Linked DNA regions of Homo sapiens: region 2 is linked to region 1. The links come from fine-mapping of genetic effects on gene expression. Tissue or cell type: whole blood. Region 1 holds a variant in brackets; the other region holds the start of a gene. All regions are shown on one strand. Distances are from middle to middle.

Evidence for each region. PIP is the estimated chance that this variant, and not a neighbour inherited with it, causes the effect.
Region 2: it holds the start of BBS10, and the variant in region 1 is fine-mapped to the expression of BBS10 in whole blood (TOPMed, PIP above 0.99).

What each region holds. Positions count from the first base shown.
Region 1 is chr12:76,546,790-76,554,897 of GRCh38, forward strand. All of the region lies in intron 1 of OSBPL8 (oxysterol binding protein like 8), which reads right to left. Among named protein-coding and RNA genes, the nearest start is that of OSBPL8, 8.9 kb to the right of the region's middle. The variant C/G (reference allele first, on the strand shown) is at 4,510.
Region 2 is chr12:76,344,259-76,352,362 of GRCh38, forward strand. It overlaps BBS10 (Bardet-Biedl syndrome 10), which reads right to left and starts at 4,157. Exons shown (of 2, transcript NM_024685.4): 1 at 3,904-4,157; 2 at 216-3,529. The coding sequence starts at 4,100. The coding sequence ends at 1,555. It overlaps OSBPL8 (oxysterol binding protein like 8), which reads right to left. Exons shown (of 24, transcript NM_020841.5): 24 at 7,539-8,104. RefSeq lists enhancers at 3,463-4,412, 4,413-5,362, 4,509-4,558.

The DNA of each region.
Region 1 (8,108 bases):
CACAGAATATAGAGAAAGGTAACAAGATCATCAGTAATCAGTCCACTACATTAGAAAATATTTAAAACTTTGACTTCCTGGACAATGAGCAAATTTAAAAAAAATGTAAAGGGGCCAATTATTTTCTAAGCTACTTTAAATTTCAAACAAGTACAGTATTTACTATGAAAGTTCTATAATACCTTATATAATCAGGCCAAATTTGGGGATTTAAGCCTTCCAAATCACAACCCCTCTGACAGGATTTTCAACTTCAAAGTAGTCAGCATTTTTTAAATCTGGCGTGTAAAAACCTCTGACTGCAGGAGAATTACGACTCCAATTACAAAAGACACACATTCCAATAGTCAAAACCATAGCTGTAGAAGAAAGAACTTCAAAATCTTATGAGAAAAGAATTGAAAACGATTAAACAAGATTAAGAGCAGAATTAAACAAGATTTGCATTCTGCCAATGCAGAAATATCACAGAAGAGAGGGAAATTAGATGAATGTATTTAAATTTATTTACCCAGGTTAATTTACAATAGTATTCTAAGCTCAATCAATATGGAGCCTGAAGATTATGAAAAGGAGTATGGGAAAAGAAGTAAAAGACAAGTTTAAAACAATGCTAGGAACAAAAAAACAAAAAATACAAAACAATAAAAAAGAATAAAACAATGCTAGCAAATTTTTATGAGTAGAAAATGAAAGGAACAAATGAAAATTAAGGCTTCCAATGAACTTGCCAGGCAATCTAAACTCAACATTTAAAGTACCAAAGATAACACAGAAGACAAGGAAAAGCAATGGAGGAAAAAATATCAACTACTGAACCAAAGTAGCTATCACACATGAGGCAGAGAAGTAAATGAAAAAGAATAACCCCTCACCCATCTAGATACACTTGAGAAACAGAACAAAAGACTTCCAAATAATTAAAATGCCACAAGGGTCATGTGTTTAAAGCTAAAATGCCATTCCCTGGAGCAAAGTCACTATTTTACACACAATTCTAAACAGTTTCATTCAGTTTCCAAGTAGCAAACAAGAAATGGCAAGATAATCATAACAACATGCAAGTTGGGGTAGGGGACAACGAAAGGGGAAACAAAAACTATGAAGCAAGCAAGAATTCAGAGTTCAAGTTTTAGGACCAAGCGGCATAAAGGCACAAACAACTATACAAATCAATAGTGAAGGGACATAAGTGTATTTTAACACTGTATCATGATCATCATAATTTCTATGAATAAATCTGCATTAACAAAAAAATAGTTCAATAGGCTCTGTTTCTTCTGTTTATGAAGCTAGAAGAAGACTTCTAATAAAAGATGGGGCGCTAAATACAAACTTTCCCTTCAGTTACTCCAGATACTCCACTGAAATAAAAACAACTCATAAAAGAAAGAAAATCGTAACAGTAAAGAAATTAAAATTGAGGCTAGAAAGAAAATCCAACAAATTTCTGGGAAATGAAAGTATATGTGAGATTGATAGAAATAACAAGCGGAAAAAGCCACAGCCTCATTATAACCTTTAAGAGTGACATGGAAAGGATGGGAACCAATACGTCTGAGAAGATCCCCAGGAAAGCATGATTATAAAGTAAATGGTACAGCAGAGGGTGGAAATAAATAGTAGGGTTAAAAATAAGAGAACTGAGTATTACTTGACTAACTATAAGGGACAGCTATATCTCCCATCCCCTATTTCCAAGCAGTTTCTAAACAACTGACATTTTACCTCCAGGCAAAAAAACAAGTCAGCTTTTCCCTAAAGAAAGTGAACCACTATCTAGGGAAAGCTAAGCGGAGGTGTGGCACAGAGTAAACACATCTCATCCAGCATTTAAAGGGCCCATACATAGCCTAGCAGCTAGCTCCTCTCTCTTTTACCCTAAAACAATCTGCCAAGAGACAGATCCTACTCTGTACTACCTTGCCCCACAAAGTGCTCTGGCCAGAATTCCTACTCAAAGAAAAAAAAATCTAATAGGGAAAACAGTCCAAGGAACAGGGGAGGGAGGGTGACCAGGAACCTAGTCTGTCTTTCTTAACCATGAATGGACAACCAAGAATTATCAGGCACATAAGGAAAACTGAGCATGAAAAAAGAATGATTACAAAAACAAACATAAAAACTGACCGGAGGAGAAAAGGAGATAAATTAGACACAAGGAGACACAAGGTATCTTTAAAAAAATCTAATTTGCACATTCTAAGACTCAAGACGACAATACAACATAGTGTAAAAATGGTGGGAAAAGAAAAAGAGAACAACAAAACTTACAGATTACCCCCAGGAAAATCAGCCAAAATACTAAAGGGGAAAAAAAACCCACAAAATATAAAAGATGAGAGAAGGAAGATCAAGACAGAAAGCAACTGCCTACTGAAAAGCAAAAAACATGATGAAGGGAGGAAATTATTAAAGACAGAGAAGAGTTTCCTGGAATTGGAAAAATAATCTGATTCAGACTGTAAGAGCAACTGAGTATCTAGACAAACAGCCAAACAAAACAAAAATGACCTATACACCTCATTATGACTTTGTAGAAGATACAAAAGAACGGATTCTAAAAGTTTTCAGACAGAATAAAGAACAAATCACCTTAAAAGGATAGTGAATCAGACTGATACATGACTCCTTCTTTTTTTCTTTTGAGACGGAGTCTCACCCAGGCTAGAGTGCAGTAGTTTGATCTCGGCTCACTGCAACGTCCACCTCCCAGGTTCAAGTGATTCTCCTGCCTCAGACTCCTAAGTAGCTGGGATTACAGGCACCTGCCACCATGCCCAGCTAATTTTTAGTAGAGACAGGGTTTCACTATGTTGGCCAGGCTGGTCTCAAACTCTTGACCTCATGATCCACCCGCCTCGGCCTCCCAAAGTGCTGGGATTACAGGCGTTGATGTATGACTTCTAATCAGCATCCCTAGATGCTAGAAGACAACAAAGCAATCCTTTCAGGGTTCTAAAGGAAAATTATTTCTAACTAACAATATTGTACCCAGCCAAATTATCAATCATTTGTGAGAATAGAATGGAGACTTTTTTACACAGAATTCGGAAAGTTTGCCTCTCATACATACTTCTTTTTCAAAGAGTTATTTGAAGATGTACTCCAATAAACAGATCAAGCAGATGCAAAAAAAAAAAAGGAAAAAAAAATATGTATAACAGAATGGATCCAATTCAAGAGTAAGGAGAAAGGAAGTTACAAGAAAAGACCTAGAAGAGTCCAAATGGAGGCAGAGTTACAGACAAATACAGATAAATAGAGAATGCAGCACAAAAGGCAGTATGCTGAAGAGTTGGGGTGTGGGGGGGCTGGGGTGTAGGGGAGGCTATAATAGAGGCATATAGTACAAGAAAAGAGGGCAATTTAAGACACTAAGAAAAACAGGAAGTCCTATTCAAAAACTTTTTTAATTCCAAAGTTAGATTTTGGTCATATCCAAATTTTTTTTTAATTTGATGGTCAGAATTGATAAAATAAATAAAGTCTACTAATTCTCTATATTATCAACATGTTTCTTCTGGCAGCCCAGGGACAGAAAAGGAATAATCATCTAAGCACATTATCTGGCTTAGCATTAAATAATACTTACACAGTCATGGTATCAACACTATTTATTGGTTTTCATAATTTAGAGACAACCTGTGGACATGACAGCTGAGATTACAGGGGAAAAAACGTGTATTTGTTTAGGCCAGGGGTGTCCAATCATTTGGCTTCCCTGGACCACACTGGAAGAGAAGAATTGTCTTGGGCCACCCATAAAATACACTAACACTAACAATAGCTGATGAGCTTTAAAAAACAAAAAAATCTCCTTATGTTTTAAGAAAGTTTATGAATTTGTGTTGGGCCGCATTCAAAACTGTCCTGGGCCGTGCGCAGCTCACCAGCCAGGGATTGGACAAGCTTAGTCTAGCCAATAAAAAGTACAGCTACTGGTTTAGAAGAAATAATCACAAGGTAATAAATGGAAAATTCAAGTAATTTCTAAAGCTGATAAAGAGAAAGGTGAATCAACATTAAGGCTGGGTACCAGGGTTCATGCCTGTAATCCCAACATTTTGGGAGGCAGGAGTTCAAATTCAGCCTATGCAAAATAGCGAAACCCTGTCTGTACAAAAAAAATAAAGTAGCCAGCCACAGTGGCACAAACCTGTAGTCCTAGCTACTGGGGAAGGTGAGGCAGGAGGATCCTTTGAGCTCAGGAATTCTGCACTCCAGCCTGGAGTGCAGGAGACAGGAGGAGACTCTGTCACTCAAAAAATAATACAAACATATATATAGTATATCAAGGAAGAGAGGAAAACACACACACACACACTAGAAACTAGGATGTTTTATAAAAACAACATAGCTTCCTTTATTGGATATACAGAAATGAACTGCTCCCCATGAACCTTACCCAACCCCTAAAAGGGGAAAAAGTTCTTTAATTAAGGATAATAGTTTCTTTCCATTTAAAATCATTTCTTTCAGATTCACTCATTCACTCAATCTTTAAAG[C/G]AGTAGTTCTCTACTGAGAGTGACCTTGTCCCCAGGGAACATCTGGCAATATCTTGAAACATTTTTCATTGTCACAATTAAGAAAGATGGTACTAGCATCTAGTGAGTAGAGGCCAGGGATGGTGCTATACATTCTACAATGCACAGGAACACACAACAAAGAATTATCCAGCCCAAAATATCAACAGAGTCAAGTTAAGAAACCCTACTTTAAGAAAACTCTTCAGACTTGTATAGATTTTCTCTGTTCCTCATTCTTATCATGGTGACTGGGCGTAAGATAAAGCTTTCATGGGCATCTGGAGTATTATGATTAGCCTGAATACAGACCCATGGATTGCCCTGGGGATCCTCACAGGCCTCTAAGGTTTGAATATTGGCCCTCACAGAGTCACAATGGCACATGCTGATGAATATGTTGGAACAGTATCCAGAGGATCTCCTAACTTGGCCCCACCCACCTCAGCTCCTGCTGGTACGGATATTATTACAGTCTCGACTACCTCGTCTATCCAGTCCCTGGCTTATACTTAAGGCAACACTAGCTGCTTAACAAATAAACCCCAGATTTTCGGTAGCTTCACACAATTAAAATTTCTCATTAATATTACAATCCATTGTGGGTATTCCTATTTGGTACACAAATTTCTTTCACATGGTAAATTTAGGGACTGTAGAACATTCCAATCTTATGGTTTTACTATCCCTTAAGAGCCTAAACCTCTGCATCTGGCCCTTGAATTAGAAAAGAGAAGGTGAAGAAAGAATACCTATTTTTTCTGCCACTTCAACCCAGAAGTGACAACAAATTGATTTCTATTCACATTCACTAGTGAAAAACTAGTGGCAGGCACAGTGGCTCACACCTGTAATGCCAGCACTTTGGGAGGCTGAGGCGGGCAGATCGCTTGAACTCAGCAGTTAGAGACCAGCCTGGGCAACATGGTGAAACCCCATCTCTACCAAAAATACAAAAAATTTGCCAGGCACGGTGGCACATCCCTGTAGTACCAGCTACTCGGAAGGCTAAGGCACAAGAATCACTTGAGCCCAGGAGGCGAAGGTTGCAGTGAGCCAAGATCCTGCCACTGCACTCTGGCCTGAGCAACAGAGCGATACCCCATGTCTCCAAAAAAAAAAAAAAAAAAAAAAAAAAAATGTTGCAAGCAAGAGGGAGCACAAATTTTTGTGGGCAATGAAATGAATCTGCCCTTCCCACAACCTCTGTCTACTACATGGTCCCTCCCTCACAATAGCAGCCTAATGACAGGCTTCCTGGCTCTCACTCTACTAACTTCTATTTCCTTCACTAGTCATATGTGAGAACATCCAGATCTCTTTCAGACCATGTAAGAACCATGGAAAACTCACAGAGTGCTATCTCTGGCCCCCTCTCTGCTTAAATATGCCATTTTCTTCCCTTTTGGCCACCCCAAGTCAGCATAGGGCCAGTGCAATAGGCTAGTAAGTGGCTGTACCAGTTCTGAACTTTGGCAGTCTGGCTCCAGGGTTCGTGCTATTCTGCCTCTCCAGATTTCTAAAATAGGTGATAAGACAGAGCACTTCCATTACTACCAATGGATATTTGTAAAGCACCTACATCTTGCAAAACAGCCTAGAACTATTACAAACTCCACACTATGATGCACAGCACTGCTTTTCTTTACTTCCAAATTGCTGATCTTACAAGTTATTATAATCATAACAATGCACAAAATTACACACTAAGCAAAGCTAGTCTCCAGAAGTCCCTCATCCTACTCTCCACTTGAACAATGTACCTGTGCCCTCACATCCAAAGCACCCCACCTCATTACTCTACCCGGTAATAATGTTACTTAGATTGAACTTCTCTCTCTCCAGATCTACCATACTTCCATCCCATCAAAATATACCAACATAGATTCCATAATTTCCACATGGGCCCCAGCCTTCCTTGTAAAAAATTATGTAATCTGACAAACTATTCCTGCTAATATGTAGGCATTTGGCAGCCAAAAAGCAAAAATTACCTTACTGGTGGTCATCTCAACAGGACAGATTTCAACTGTACAGATCTGTGTCCCTCAAATATCACTAAATAGGCCTGGCATGGCAGCTCACATCTATAATCCCAGCACTTTGGGAGACCAAGGTGGGAGAATCATTTGAGGCTAGGGGTTCAAGACCAAGCTGGGCAACATAGTGAGACTCTGTTTCTAAAAAAAAAAAAAAAAACTTAAAAATTAGCCAGGTGTGATGGTATTCGCCTGTAGTCCCAGCTACTTGGGAGGCAGAGACAGGAGGATCACTTGAGCCTGGGAGGTCGAGGCTGCAGTGAGCCATGGTAGTGAGTGCCACTGCACTCCAGCCTAGGTGACAGCTCAAGACCCTGTATCAGAAGAAAAAAAAAAAAGGCCAGAGGAGGTAGCTCACGCCTGTAATCTCAACACTTTGGGAGGACGAGGCAGGTGGATCACTTTACGTCAGGAGTTCGAGAACAGCCTGGCCAATATGGTGAAACCCCATCTCTACTAAAAATACAAAAAATTAGCTGGGCATGGTGGCATGCACCCGTAATCCCAGCTACTCAGGAGGCTCAGGCATGAGAATCACTTGAAACCGGGAGGCAGAGGTTGCAGTGAGCCAAGATCACACTACTGCACTCCAGCCTAGGTGACACAGTGAGACTCTATCTCAAAAAAAAAAAAAAAAAAACACTAAAAAAAAATGCATACCAATTCTGTGAATCAGCCTTATTCTTTAAAACTATTTTTTAATTATAACAACTTAGCTTTAAATACTGTTATCTATTATGTTCTTTAATTTCCAGTTACTCCGAAATTCTCTGAAATTCCCCAGTGAGAAAATGGCAACTGGATGAACAATAAAATAAATATTTGCTTTACTCTAAGTATTTTTAAGATTTAAAAATAGGATGTCAGTCAAATACAAGTAAAATGAGAGAAAAAAAATCAAGGCTATATTCCATCTTCTTATAAAGTAAAGTGCATTTTGTAAATGACACAACTAAAACAGACTCAGGAAGATCACAAGGTCAAGACGTATCAAGAGGAGCAACTGCAAATAAATTATACAAGGCAGTATATAATATGATGGTTAAAAGGATAGGCTCCAAAGTCAAAGGTCAGGTTAAACCTCAAGTTTAAATCCTTTTAGTAGGCTCTACCACCTACTACTTAACTTCTCTGTGCCTCAGGTTTAGTTCAAATCCTGGCTCCACCACTTATTTAATCTGTCAGTTGCTCAGGTTTAAAAAAAAGAAAATAGCCTGATTGCGGGGTGGTTGTCAGGATCAAATGTGATGACATGTCAAGTACTTCTAGAGTAGTACAGTACCTGGTATATAGCAGTTGACGCACATTAGCTATTAATATGACCTATAACAATTTCCCTCTGAATCTATCAAGTTTTCAAAAACTCTAAATCAAAAAGCTTCTCCTTTTTATTTGAAAAAAGTCAAGCTCTGAAACCATTTCCTCTTTTTTTCAGTCCTTTTTGAATATGGAAATTAGTAGGTAACTGGCTTATCATTTGATGACTCTTCTTAGTCTTTGTATAATAAAAAGGCTCAAGACTCTTCTTAGTCTTTTTATAAT
Region 2 (8,104 bases), 200 kb before region 1:
GACCAAGTGCCAAACGTACAAAGACCCAGTCCTACCTCAACAGGGCTCCTGGACTAGTGACTATACCTATTAAATGCTTATCATATGCAAAGCACTGGGCATGTCTGGAAGTCATTAAATGCTTACAGTAATGGAGGAGTGTTTTAAACAACCACAAAAAAAGCAAAGTGACCAAATGACCTGAAAGGCAATTAAAAAAAAAATGAAAAAAATTATGCAGCAGTTTTAAAGTTCATTCATCCATGAATTCAGCAAAAGAGCTAATTTATTCTCTCCATATTCACAGAAACAAAATAATGCATCATATAGCATAAATGTTTAAAAAATCAGAATTACATTTAATATAAAAAATTTTGATATTATAGTTTTTAAAATACATTAGTCAACACTTATTCAACTATAATTAAAGTTTTTTTTCTTCAGTCAATCCCAAGTAAGAATCTGTTGAATAAGTAAACTGGAAACATGTATTTAAAGGAATGAATTAAAGATAACACTGTTTTGTTCAACAAGCACTTCTGAATACTTGGAGTAAATACAGCACTGTTTTGGGTATTACAGAGAACTGATAAAGGTAGAAAACACTGTCCTTGTCCATGATAAGATGCATCATATTATTTACATTGACAAGTTTTTAAAATATGAACATTTGTAAATGAAATAAATTAGAAATAAAAATTAAAAATAAAACAGAAATAAACATTAGAAATAAAAATTGTCAAATTATTTGTTACTGTGGAACTCTGGCTATGCACCAGATACAAGAAAAACCAGTAAATACATGACATATCCTTACAAGCTCTTGGGGTCAGGAGAAAATCAAAGTATTAATTGCATATCCTTTCTAGTATTAACCTTTTACTACAGAAATGAAAGAGTTAACAATGCACAGTTATATTTCAGGTAACATATATTCAAAGGTATATCAAAGGTGAAAATCTATCCAAGTTTTCCAAATGAAGTGGCAGTAAACCAATGACCACATAAAAGTAAAAATTAATTTTATGCTTTTTGAAAAAAAATTTGAGCCTTTTACTCACTGCTAATTTAATTTTATGCTTTTTGAAAAAAATAATTTGAGCCTTTTACTCAGCTTTACAAAGTATGAGTAGGGAAAATTAATGCAAATAATGTATTCAATATTAAAAACAATTAGAATAAGCCCACCCAAATCAGAGATTAAATGATTCTATGAACTAAACATGTAACGATGAAGGAGGGCTGGAGTGAAAAAGATACAGGAGAGTAAAAAGGAGCTATAAAGAAAAACCCTCCCCTAAACACATAGGCTAACACAGAGCTGAGACACAGAGGCATAAAATAGGGAAAAAACAGACACACTTAGCCAAATCTTGGCTTCCCCTCTAGATTTGTTCCATAAAGTAATTTAATATTTGTATCTGGTCTGGTGACCTTAGTGTGCTTCTTCTAAAGACTTTTAAAGTTACGCTATTTTCCTAAGTAGACTGAACTGACTTTAGAACCAGTGGTCACATGACTGCTTTACTTGGCTTGAGTTAGATGAAAAGTTTGGTTAATTAAAAACTTCTGATGTTATAGTTCATCTTCTGAATCTTGATTGTGAACTTTCTGAGGGTGTCTCTTAACAGTGATTACCATGTCAATGGTTAATATTTTTGTCAAACACTGAAGAACTGAAGTTAGTAGCTGGTATTTACCCATTACTGATTCCAAACCTGTCTGACTGCTTACCAAGGGTTGATTGGTTTGCAGTGCATGGACAGCTCTTATATATGTATGTGGAAAGCTGTACTTTCCTGTTTTAGATTTATAAAGGACTTTGGGAATGCCTAAAAGTGCATTAGCTATTATCATACTAACCATGGTTTCTTCTGATTGATGGCATTTTTTGGCATAATTGAGAAGATAGTAATGTAACAAGATCTCAAAATTACCACCTACTGGCAAAACACAACCAGCTGGCATAGATGAGGAAAGGTAACTCTGGGAAGTACCCATATTCGGTAACTTACAGCTCACTGGTAACATGCTTCCCTTTCTAGTAATATTTGTGACCTGTAAATTTTCGTAAGAAATTTCTATTCTATTTCCCCTTGTTGAATAAGCAGTGGAATTGTTCTTGAGTAATGGTTCATAATAATCAGTTAGCCTGTTTCTTTCCAAAGACAAACATGTCAGCGTTTCAACTGTTTGGAATGTATCTGTTGGTGTCAGTGTGGGGGTTGAATACGGAATATATGTTTCTAATTCTACATCTGGAATTACCAAATTAGAATGTACTTTTAAATATGTTTGAGTTTTTTCCAATGCATCTTTGTTCTCTGCAACTGTGTCCTGATAAGGCCTTTGTATTGAGCCATTACCAGGATCTGGTGCTTGATAACTTTCTCCACTGTTCTTATAAATAAAAAGACTTGAAGTGCCATTTTGGTCATTGGTTTGTGTCATGTAATTTAGATCAAGGTCTTTAAATAATTGCCGAAGCATTTTAAGTGCTCCATGTAAAGCATCCTCATGTTGTTCAATGAGACCATGCACTGGTCCACAAAGAACTATAGAGTGTGGTATAAATGCACATGTGCTTATCAAGCCTAGATGAACATATCTTTTGGATCTAAGGATAAGAGGTTTACAAAATTTCACCAAAGCAGTGTTAGGTATTTCACACTGCGAAAAGGCCTGTGGTGGTACAAATGGAGAAAGACCAATGATCCTCCGGATAAGAGAAACTTCTTCTGATGATAAACACTCAACCACTGATATGCCATTCACCCCTGCATAATAACTAACTAAATCTGGTTGTTTCACACTAGATATGAGCAATTTTACATTCTGACTATGTAGATGTTTCATTATTGCTTTTGTCTTTTCCATAATCCAAAATTGAGATGTCTGAAACTGTGCTTCTGAATTTAGAATAAACTCTGATCCAGAAGTGGAAAAAAGAGGCTGAATGGTTTCTGTTACTATCACCATTCGCATGTCACCATCTGCTGGGCGGTACACAGAAAAATCTTTCTGAAGCACAAGACCAGCTATGATCCTGGAATCTGAAACAGGAAGGCCAGTGACACCAACATTCAACTCTACAAAATGGTCATCCACTAACTCAAATACACCAATCCCACTTTTACAAGTCATACACTTGAAAAAGTAGTCACACATCAACTGTGAAATAAATTTATGATTATTTCTTCCCACTCTTCCACAAAAGTATGCTTCTAAGAGCAACTCTAAAGAGCTCCTACACAATGTTCTCTCTTTAGCAGACGAAAAGATAGACAAAAAGTGTCTACTTAGGTACTGGTCCATAATACCGTCTAATATTTGTGTCTGAAACGTTAGGAGAGCCTGGGAAATAAATTTCCACCGAGAACAATTTTTCCAATGCCTTCCATGGGTTTGAATGTTTTCACACATCAAAGGATCCTTTTCTCTGTCTGTGATTGCATGAAGTCCTCTAAGCAAATGGCAAAGAAAGATAATAAATGTTTTTGCACCATCTCCTGTTTTTTTGAGATGACTGGAAACACAGTCCACTATCATCCTGTACAAAAAAGAAATAAAGCAACTCATTTTCAGAAGGCTGGCTTCCCACATCTTAAAACCATGTTTACACAGCCATAAGCATAAAATGAGAATATTGTTCCTTGGATACATCCTTAGTTTTTTCCTTTCTTGGAAAAAACTCTGCTCTATTCCAAGATTCCACCGTTGGGTGGAGTGGGGAGAAGTGGTCTTGAGAATTGGTAAGATTTGGGGTGCAGGAGTGTTCCCTTGGGCAGGGCTCTAATTCCGAGCATACAGCGGTTTCACCCGAGGTCAGTCTTTCTAAGTACGCATCGCCTCAGGATGGGACAAGAGCTCCACAGAGGCTGCCTGGGGTGCCCGGCTACGGGTTAGCGTGTGGGACGCGGGTACCTGGCTATGGGATGCTCTAAGTGTAGCGCCTCCAGGAGGCGGCCTCCATTCCGGCTGAGAAGCACCTCGCCAGTGGGCTTCGTACACAAAACTTGCCGTCCCTCGGGCCCCACGCAGCAGCTCACGATGGCTTCCAGCACCTCGGCCACCTGCAACGCCGCCTTCACAGACCCTGCAGCGGCCATAGAACTTAACATATCTGGGCCGCTTCCCCTTTTTGACCAGCTTGCAGAACACCCGGGCCGACCGAAAACAGGGGTGGGAACGGCCGGAAACGGAATAGGCGGGGAGAAAACCCGGAAGCCAGGAGTCGAAGCCGGGGTAGCACGGCTTCTTGGTTGGGCGAGAGGGCTGCCCTTCTGTCCGCCTGGTGGAAAAGCCCTGCAGCTTTGCCAGGTGGGGTGAGCTGGCCCGTTGTACGCGAAGGCAGAAAAAACAGACTAGGATTTCCAGCAGCTGTGCCTGGAGCGGCAACCCTAAGCCCCTCCCCGGCTCCCTAGGTGAATTCATCTCCCTCCAGTGGCGTCCGCTGCCCCCAAATCCCTTAGTCTCCCGAGAAACTTTCTTCCTAAGTCAACACGGTAGTGGGGCCTGCGTGAAGGAGAGGGCACCCCGGTTGGAACTCTGCTGGCTTTCATCCCCTGCCAGAAGCTGCTTTTTCCGGGGCAAAACCTCTGCCTTGGATTCACGCATGTTCCTGTCCACATTCCCCACGAGTTGCTCTCCTTACCATAACGGAAATAATTTGTAGATGCAGGACAGGTGAGGAGAGCCTGGCCACAGCCATGAATTGCAGGCTTTATGTCTGCTGCAGAGGCTTTACCACATTTCCTAGACTCAGGTATCACAATAAAACTCTAGACACCACAAATATATTAAGCAGAAATGATGCGAAGTCTCTATTTTTTGAGATGGACTCCCGCTCTGTCGCCCAGGCTGGAGTGCAGTGGCGCAATCTCGGCTGACTGCAACCTCCGCCTCCCGGGCTCAAGCGATTCCCGTGCCTCAGCCTCTCAAGTAGCTGGGATTACAGGCATACGCCACTGTGCCCCGCCAATATTTGTATTTTTAGTAGAGATGGGGATGTCACCATGTTGACCAGGCTGGTCTCGAACTCATGACCTGAATGATCCACCTGCCACGGCCTTTCAGAGTGTTGGGATTACAGGCATGAGCCGCTGTGCAGATTTAAATCCATTAATCACGTCGGTGATCAACAGTATGCTTTAAAACACATGGCCAAGGATTATTGTATATAACCCAAAGACAGAAAATACTGTCTCTTATAACATTTTTTTTGTTTTTTAAGAGATGAAGTTTCACTCTGCCGCCCAGGCTGGAGTGCAGTGGCGAGATCATAGCTTACTGCAGCTCCGCATTCCTGAGCTCGTGATCCTCCTGTCTTAGCCTTCAAGTCGCTTTGTGCCTCACTACGCCTGGTTATTTTCTCTTTTAGTAGAGACAGGGTCTCCCTGTGTTGCCCAGGCTGATCTTGAATTCCTGGCCTCAAGTGATCCTCCCAACTTGGCCTTCCAAAGTTTTAGGATTACAGGCATGAGCCACCTTGCCTGGCCTAAAACACAGGCACTTGAGAGCATGGGCTTTGGATTCAGACCTGGATTTGCTCTGTCATTTCCTTACCTGTGGCATTCACCAAGTAACCTCTTTGATCTCTGCTTTTCTCATCTTTAAAAACAATGGGCCTGCCGCAGTGGCTCATGGCTGTAATTCCAGGACTTTGGGAGGCCGAGGTGGGAGATCACAGGAGGCCGAGAGTTCAAGACCAGCATGGCCAACATAGCAAAATCCCGTCTCTACTAAAAATACAAAAATTAGCTGGGCATGGTGGTGCATGCTTGTAATCCCAGCTACTCTGGAGGCTGAGGTATGAGAATAATTTGAACTCGGGAAGGGAGGTTGCAGTGAGCCAAGATTGCACCACTGCACTCCAGCCTGGGCGACAGAGCGAGACCTTGTCTCAAAACAAAACAATCCCCGCCAAAAAAACCAGTGGAGATAACATATACAAAATAAAAATCTCAAGAGGTTTTGAGTAGGTGGAGAATGTTCACTAAACACTTTGCATAGTGCCTGGCATAGTTAGCACTCAACAGATATTTATATTACACCTGTTAGAGGAAAAGGGTCCCAATCCAGACCCCAAGAGAGGGTTCTTGGATCTCATGCAAGAAAGAATTCAGGACGAGTCCATAAAGTGAAAGCAAGTTTATTAAGAAAGAGGAATAAAAGAATGGTTACTCCATAGGCAAAGCAGCCCCAAGGGCTGCTGGTTGCCGATTTTTATGGTTATTTCTTGATGATATGCTAAACAAGGAGTGGATTATTTATGCCTCCCCTCTTTAGGCCATATAGGGTAACTTCCTGACATTGCCATGGCATTTGTAAACTGTCTTTGGTGCTGGTGGGAGTATAGCAGTGAGGACAACCAGAGGTCACTCTCGTGGCCATCTTGGTTTTGGTGGGTTTTGGCTGGCTTCTTTACTGCAACCTGTTTTATCAGCAAGGTCTTTATGACCTGTATCTTGTGCCAACCTCCTATCTCATCCTGTGACTTAGAATGCCTTAATCATCTGGGAATGCAGCCTAGATCTTAGCCTCATTTTACCCAGCTCCTATTCAAGATGGAGTTGCTCTGGTTCAGATGCCTCTGACGCACCCACCAAATTACTGGAGTTGCTCTGGTTCAGATGCCTCTGACGCACCCACCAAATTACTGTGGTAGGTCACCACTCTCCTGGTTTATTATTCCCACAAGTGATATTTTGTGAGATGCAGAAGATTCAACTAGCATAATGGCACAACATACATCATCTAGAGTCGAAGCATGCCAGTATTAGCAAGAAAATGATCTTGTAGATGTTTCACGAGGTTGGACAATGAGGGGCCGTTTTCCTTAATCCTTATTGCTATGAACAAGATAGGAGGAACCGGCAGGCCCTCCCATCTTTTTCTCCCCAATTAATAAAACCAAACCAAATGACAGCCAGAAGCAACTGGACCCTGAGCAGAGAGCAAGAATGGGAAGAAAGGAGGGTGGGGGAAAACCAGAGAGGAATGATGTCTCGGAACTCATCTGATGTTGACTCAGTATGGACTAATAGGTGATCTGAGGGGGGAAAAAAAAACCCTTTCATATGGATTTCGTATATGTTTAATAGTAGGGTTTTTTTGTGGTGCTACTCATAACAAAGGGGTTACATTACTCAATATAGATTCAAGCAGTGGATTATATTCCTGACATTTAGAAGTGAAGTGCTATTAGAGTTCTATTTAAGTGTACCACGGAGATACAGATTCAAACTTGTGCTTTTACTCTTAAAGTAAGAGTCGGCTACCACTCTTACTCCGCAGCTTTTGGAGACTTTCAACCTCTCTGAGCCTCAGCATCTTCATGTATAAAATCTGGCTAACGTCCACCTAAGGTTCTCATAGAGGATTCGAGAAGAATGAATATAAGGCACCAAGCAAAGCATACTTCAGGGATTCTCACTGTTGAATCCCTTTCAAGCCCTTTGCCATCCTTTGCAGCTATCCCTATCCCCACAAAAGGGGGGATTAAAACAAATTAGCAATAATTTAGTCATCATATTGTATTAAAAGTCACTTGATCACCGTTTGCTCTTTTTAAAAATTTTATTTAGAAGCCTACTTGTAGAAGTTAGCATAATTTTACAGATTATTAGAAAAATTCTTTTCTTTCTGCAAACAGTTATAATAGGTTAGGAATAATAGATTAGAAATGTACTACATTACAAAACAGTGGCCTATAACTATCTGTACATTTACTGTGCACCTTAAGGAAAAGAATTTGACAGTGTGCTGTACTTACACTGCAGGTAACATATTTTTATTCTATCACACAAAACTGACCAGTGGTAGTGCTTGAATTTATGAATGGCCATTAAACAGAACATTTAAACTCAGATGTATATTTAGCATGCTAAAAAGTGAAAAAAATTTCAACTGAAGTTCTGTGGCTCATCAGTTCAAATGTTTCATGGCATTTTTTTTCTTTAAGTGAAAAATTTTGATACTGTAAAACAGTTTTACATAATAAATGCAAAAAGATAACATTTTCTAAATTTTTAGAAAGAATATTCACATTCATTTTGTCATGGGTTTCACGTGGCTCTTCTAAATATATTAATCATATTAATAAGACACTGGTCCTATACAATTT